Homo sapiens: one gene and its partner. The protein of the gene in region 1 interacts with the protein of each later gene in a biochemical or structural test. Each region holds a gene or a part of one and is shown in the gene's direction. Other genes may lie near its edges. The genes, in order: TNFRSF25 and DAP3.

What was found.
Region 2: the proteins of TNFRSF25 (region 1) and DAP3 form a complex in vitro, tested with the Homo sapiens proteins (one study listed by BioGRID).

The regions. Positions count from the first base shown.
Region 1 is NC_000001.11:6,460,015-6,463,418, reverse strand, and holds the end of TNFRSF25 (tumor necrosis factor receptor superfamily member 25 isoform 2 precursor), read left to right. Parts: intron 1-271; coding exon of another isoform or gene 272-291; coding exon 292-347; coding exon of another isoform or gene 348-354; intron 355-448; coding exon 449-556; intron 557-752; coding exon 753-790; intron 791-1,244; coding exon 1,245-1,425; intron 1,426-1,656; coding exon 1,657-1,985; 3' UTR 1,986-2,233; coding exon of another isoform or gene 2,234-2,239; 3' UTR 2,240-2,633; downstream 2,634-3,404. UniProt on the Homo sapiens protein: Receptor for TNFSF12/APO3L/TWEAK. Interacts directly with the adapter TRADD. Mediates activation of NF-kappa-B and induces apoptosis. May play a role in regulating lymphocyte homeostasis.
Region 2 is NC_000001.11:155,723,551-155,727,090, forward strand, and holds part of DAP3 (small ribosomal subunit protein mS29), read left to right. Parts: intron 1-1,831; coding exon 1,832-1,940; intron 1,941-2,376; coding exon 2,377-2,469; intron 2,470-3,540. UniProt on the Homo sapiens protein: As a component of the mitochondrial small ribosomal subunit, it plays a role in the translation of mitochondrial mRNAs. Involved in mediating interferon-gamma-induced cell death. Displays GTPase activity in vitro.

The DNA.
Region 1 (3,404 bases):
GCTATGTTCTACACACTGTTCTAGGTGCTGGGGATGCAACAGGGGACAAAATAGGCAAAATCCCTGTCCTTTTGGGGTTGACATTCTAGTGACTCTTCATGTAGTCTAGAAGAAGCTCAGTGAATAGTGTCTGTGGTTGTTACCAGGGACACAATGACAGGAACATTCTTGGGTAGAGTGAGAGGCCTGGGGAGGGAAGGGTCTCTAGGATGGAGCAGATGCTGGGCAGTCTTAGGGAGCCCCTCCTGGCATGCACCCCCTCATCCCTCAGGCCACCCCCGTCCCTTGCAGGAGCACCCTGGGGAGCTGTCCAGAGCGCTGTGCCGCTGTCTGTGGCTGGAGGCAGAGTAGGTGGTGTGCTGGGAATGCGAGTGGGAGAACTGGGATGGACCGAGGGGAGGCGGGTGAGGAGGGGGGCAACCACCCAACACCCACCAGCTGCTTTCAGTGTTCTGGGTCCAGGTGCTCCTGGCTGGCCTTGTGGTCCCCCTCCTGCTTGGGGCCACCCTGACCTACACATACCGCCACTGCTGGCCTCACAAGCCCCTGGTTACTGGTAAGTACACACACCCACACACGCACCCAGAAGCCTGGGGTCAGGATGGGTAGCCCAGAGTCTACTCAACCCTGATACAGAAGGGGAAACTGAGGCAGGGAGTGTGGGGTGCAGAGGAACCCTAGAGGAGCTGTACCAGCACCCAGGTCCAGGAGGCTTGCCTGGTGGCTGACCGCAATCTCTCTGTGTCTGTCAGCAGATGAAGCTGGGATGGAGGCTCTGACCCCACCACCGGTAAGAACCTCACTGTGTGATTCTGGGCTGCCTTCTGGAGCTGGAAGATCAAGCCTTACTATGATCCCTGGAGCTTGGCACGCGGCCAGCACCGGGTAGCCCTAGTGGACAGAGGTGTTGGGAGCAGAGTCATCAGTGGATGAGACCAGCACAGTGCCTGCCCTCAAGGGGTGCTCAGTCAGCTGGAGTTCAGATTCGTACACAGGAGCTAACAGTTCAATGGAAGGAGAGCCCCATGGTGCTGGGGGACAAGAGGAAGGAGGCGGGGGCAGGGGACTCAAGGCAGAAGCAAGAGTTCTGCTGGGCTACAGTGAGAGCAGGGCCAACTGTGGGAGGTGTCATTGCGGGGGTGTCTGCTGACTGAACCAGGGACTGTCCCCTCCTGGAGAGGCACTGCGGGTAAGGGGCCTTACTTGGCAAGCAGGGCTGACCTGGGGCCCCTCTTGGCTTCCAGGCCACCCATCTGTCACCCTTGGACAGCGCCCACACCCTTCTAGCACCTCCTGACAGCAGTGAGAAGATCTGCACCGTCCAGTTGGTGGGTAACAGCTGGACCCCTGGCTACCCCGAGACCCAGGAGGCGCTCTGCCCGCAGGTGACATGGTCCTGGGACCAGTTGCCCAGCAGAGCTCTTGGTAAGGGACATCAGTGGCCTGAGGCCTTGACCCCATTCTCCTGTCTGCGGTGGGAAGTTGTGGTTTCACAACGTGTTCCCTTTCTGCCCCCTAACTGACGGAGTCCGCCCTATGCCCTGACCCACCGGATCCAGCGGGCTTCAGCCCTGGGGTACCCGCACGAACGCCCCTGACTCTGCCTCCCGACCGCGGCCCACGTACCCCAATTGGCTCTCTCTGGCCCTGCCCCAGGCCCCGCTGCTGCGCCCACACTCTCGCCAGAGTCCCCAGCCGGCTCGCCAGCCATGATGCTGCAGCCGGGCCCGCAGCTCTACGACGTGATGGACGCGGTCCCAGCGCGGCGCTGGAAGGAGTTCGTGCGCACGCTGGGGCTGCGCGAGGCAGAGATCGAAGCCGTGGAGGTGGAGATCGGCCGCTTCCGAGACCAGCAGTACGAGATGCTCAAGCGCTGGCGCCAGCAGCAGCCCGCGGGCCTCGGAGCCGTTTACGCGGCCCTGGAGCGCATGGGGCTGGACGGCTGCGTGGAAGACTTGCGCAGCCGCCTGCAGCGCGGCCCGTGACACGGCGCCCACTTGCCACCTAGGCGCTCTGGTGGCCCTTGCAGAAGCCCTAAGTACGGTTACTTATGCGTGTAGACATTTTATGTCACTTATTAAGCCGCTGGCACGGCCCTGCGTAGCAGCACCAGCCGGCCCCACCCCTGCTCGCCCCTATCGCTCCAGCCAAGGCGAAGAAGCACGAACGAATGTCGAGAGGGGGTGAAGACATTTCTCAACTTCTCGGCCGGAGTTTGGCTGAGATCGCGGTATTAAATCTGTGAAAGAAAACAAAACAAAACAAAAACGGCTTCTTGGCGTTTCTGCGGGGCTGGGGTGTTAAGTGGACTGGACTTTTCTCGAGGGATTCGAAGGGGACGGGAATCTTGTCACCCCGGGATCTGGCACCCATGGTGGAGTCCAGTGTGGCCTTAGCTCCCAAGCCTGCCCCTCCCGAGTCCACTCTGGCTCAATTACCCCGAGAAGGAGAGAGCAAGTCGCGGCCACAGCGAGTGAGTGAACCGGAGCCCAGATGAGAGCGCTTTAATGGGGCTGCGAGGTGGCGGAGACAGGGTCGGGATGGGGTGCAGCAGTTGGAGACACAGGGTCAGGGCCCCTCATCCTCTATTCACTCCACCGGGGCAGTGAAAGGGTCCCGGCAGCGAGTGGGTCTGGCTGGGGACGGGGCGCAGACTTGAGGGAGGTGGGGCCAGAGGTGGGGTCCCGGGGGCCACAAGTGCGGCCCGGCCAGACAGGCAGTTTTCATGTTTCTGGTAAACAAATGACTGAGAGGAAACCCTTGGCGGGGATAAGAAATGAGGCCCGGGCTAGGCCGCGCGCAGATCTGGGTCAGAGAGGAAGGGAAAACCCCTTCCCCGAGCTCGGGGCCTGCCTCCACCCAGGATGCGCCAGCGACGCCGGTTCCGGGGTGCGGGGGAGGGGGCTGCATCCTGGAGGGGGCTGAGCCCCGCAGGAAAACAAAGTCACCACCCACGGGGCTGGGGAGAGCTCTGCACTCTTTGATAGTCAACGAACATGCAAATATATGTAAGTCGGCATGCAAATAAGCAGCATTTGTTGTTGTTTGCGTCAGCAGCTTGGGCACTTTTTCTGGGCAACCGTGGCGGCGTGTGCACTCCAGTGTTGCCAAGGGCTGGGGATACGGGGGGCCAGGGTGGGGGTCAGGGAGGGTTTCCAGCGCAGGAGGGGAGGGCTGTGCGGCTCCCAGCCTTTCCACCAGGGCCTGGCTGGCTGGGGCTGGGGCGGAGGGCCCCACGGAGCTGCGAGGCTGCGGACAGGAGTCTGCGGCCTCTAGTACTTAGCGATGTCCCCCTTCTTCAGGATGACCTGTCGCTGCCAGGGCGCCAGCTTGCTCTCATCGTAGCCCAGCGTCCGCAGCTTCTCTGACTGTTCCTTCTCCCGCCGCAGCTCCTCCTGCTTCTG
Region 2 (3,540 bases), about 150 Mb from region 1:
ACTCCTAACCTCAGGTGATCCACCTGTCTTGGCCTCCCAAAGTGCTGGGATTACAGGGATGAGCCACCACGCCCAGCCAACATTTGTTTTAATACCTTTATCATGTTTTTTTGAACATTGAGCCTTCCATTAAGTTTGGAATTGCCTGTCAAATCCTACACCAATTCAATTGTTTTGTTAGGATTTCTTTTAAAAATATCAACACTGGCTGGGTACAATGGCTCACGCCTGTAATTCCAGCACTTTGGGAAGCTGAGGTGGGCAGATTACTTAAGGCCAGGAGTTCAAGATGAGCCTGGCCAACATGGTGAAACTCCATCTCTACTAAAAATACAAAAATTAGCTGGGCGTGGTGGCACACGCCTGTAGTCACAGCTACTTGTGAGGCTGAAGCAGGAGAATCGCTTGAACCCGGGAGGCGGAGGTTGCAGTGAGCTGAGATCGTGTCACTGCACTCCAGCCTGTGCGACAGAGCGAGACTCTGTCTCAAAAAAAAAAAAAAAAAATTAACACTATTTTAGTTATACTTACAAACAGTATTTGTTAGATATTCTTATTAGTAGACATATTTTAATATTTTCTTTGCAAATCAGTTTCACACACATTAGTACTTCCCAAATTTCCCACCAAAGTATTCTGGTAGCAAAAGGGGAATTAAACTCTGAAAGGTTAGTATGCTGGAGGTATGAGGTATGGATGGCCTTAGAGTTGTGAGGCAGCTGGTCACACCTGCTCCTGAGCCGCCATGTATTTAGTTCTAGAGAAAAAAGTCTAAATGGTTAAAGTAATAAAAATAAATTTTAGGCCAGGTGCGGTGGCTCACGCCTATAATCCCAGCACCTTGGGAGGCTGAGACGGGTGGATCATGAGGTCAGGAGTTCGAGACCAGCCTGACCAACATGGTGAAAGCCTGTCTCTACTAAAATTACAAAAATCAGCCTGGCATGGTGGTGGCACCTGTAATCCCAGCTACTGAGGAGACTGAGGCAGAAGAATTGCTTGAACCCCGGAGGCGGAGGTTGCAGTGAGCCGAGATCACACCACTGCACTCTAGCCTGGGTGACAGAGTGAGACTCTGTCTCAAAAAAAGAAAAAAAAAAAAAATCAACTAAAAATAAATTTTAGGCCAGGTGCAGTGGCTCACGCCTGTAATCCCTGCACTTTGGGAGGCCAAGACGGGGGTGTCACCTGAGGTCGGGAGTTTGAGACCAGCCTGACCAACATGGAGAAACTCCTTCTGTACTAAAAATACAAAATAGCCGGGCATGGTGGTGGGTGCCTGTAATCCCAGCTACTCGGGAGGCTGAGGCAGGAGAATCACTTGAACTGGGAGGCAGAGGTTGTGGTGAGCCGAGATCGTGCCATTGCACTCCAGCCTGGGCAACAAGAGTGAAACTCCGTCTCAAAAAAAAAAAAAGAAAAAAAATTTAAAGAGTTAATGTTTATTGAATTATTAACTTGTGTCAGAAATTTTAAGCATTTTTCTATATGCTTTCCATATTTACAGTGGCCCTAAGTGGTATACATAATTTTGTTATGAGATATATCAATTATTTATAGATTTCAGCTGAGATAGAATATATGCTTCAGTAATAGGAATAATCAAAAGCTGACTATCATGTTACTTAGTGCGGAATAATGTATTTCAGTTTTTAGCTAAGTTATATGGATAGATTTTCAAACTCAGTACCAACCCAGCTTCTCCTAACTGAGTAAATTAGAGGCATGCAATCTGATGGTCTTGGTTGCCACTTTAGGCAGAGTATATATACCACCCCCCACCCACTCCTTCCACACCCACCCACTCTTTCCTTCTTTCCTACTTTATCAGGTGAAGACATTCAGTGAAGCTTGCCTGATGGTAAGGAAACCAGCCCTAGAACTTCTGCATTACCTGAAAAACACCAGTTTTGCTTATCCAGCTATACGATATCTTCTGTGTATCCTTTCCTGCCTGCGTGGACCCTCATGAACCAATGCTTTCTCCCCTCAAATAAGGCAACAGAAGAAATGAAAAAAAGTACTGTTGAGGCCGGGCATGGTAGCTCACACCTATAATCCCAGGAGTTTGGGAAGCCGAGGCAGGCGTATCGCCTGAAGTCAGGAGTTCAAGACCTGCCTGGCCAACATGGCGAAACCCCGCATTTACTAAAAATGCAATATATTAGCCGGGTGTGGTAGCGTGCACCTGTAATCCCAGCTACTTGGGAAGCTGAGGCAGGAGAATCGCTTGAACCCGGGAAGCGGAGGTTGCTGTGAGCTGATATCAAGCCACTGCACTCCAACCCCATCTCAAAAAAACAAAACAAAGCATAACTACTGTTCACATACAAGTGATCCTTCCAGTCATGTTTTCTTTAACAACATATACTTTAGATGGAGAGAAGGGAACAGGAAAAACCCTAAGTCTTTGCCATGTTATTCATTTCTGTGCAAAACAGGACTGGCTGATACTACATATTCCAGATGGTAAGAACTTCCTGTTGTTTCTTCTGTCTGTTAGGTTTAGTTATCCTGTTACTGTGGTAGCCTTGCAGCTTTAATTTTCTTTTCTTTTCTTTTCTTTTTTTTTTTTTTTTTGAGATGGAGTTTCGCTCTTGTCGGCCAGTCTGGAGTGCAGAGGCGCAATCTCAGGTCACCGCAACCTCCGCCTCCCAGGCTCAAGAGATTCTCCTGCCTCAGCCTCCCAAGTAGCTGGGATTACAGGCGCCCACCACACCACCACGCCCAGCTAATTTTTTTTTTTTTTTTTTTTTGAGACGGAGTCTTGCTCTGTCGCCCAGGCTGGAGTGCAGTGGCACGATCTCAGCTCACTGCAAGCTCCGCCTCCCGGGTTCACACCATTCTTCTGCCTCAGCCTCCTGAGTAGCTGGGACTACAGGCGCCCGCCACCATGCCCGGCTAATTTTTTTTGTATTTTTAGTAGAGACAGGGTTTCACCATGTTGGCCAGGCTGGTCTCGAACTCCTGACTTCAGGTGATCCACCTGCCTTGGCCTCCCAAAGTGCTGGGATTACAGGCATGAGCCATTGCACCCGGCCTCAGCTTTACTTTCCTAACAGGGATCTGATAGCTAAAGGAAAAGCCTTTGCCAGTCACGATGGCTCAAACCTATAATCCCAGCACTTTGGGAGGCTGAGGCTGGAATATTGCTTAGAGCCCAGGAGGAGGCTGCAGTGAGCTGTGATCGCACCACTACACTCTAGCGTGGGCAACAAAGCAAGACCCTGTCTCAAAAAAAAAAAAAAAAAAGAAGAAGAAGAAAAGCCTTTACTCCAGATGTAGAGCAGACTGAGCTCATCCATCATGATTTCTTCGTGATATTACTGCCAAGCAGATTATAAGGTGAAGTCAATGTGACAAAAGGAAATTCGGCTAAAAGCTTCCTGAAGCCTTTTGATGCTAAGCAGTCCTTCTTTTGATATTTAATACCCATGGACATAAACTTCTGCCTTAGAGGTCGCCATGGAGTTTTGTTTTGTTTTGTTTTGTTTTGTTTTTGCCATCTGTTAACAGTCCTGAGTACCCATAGAGCCTTTT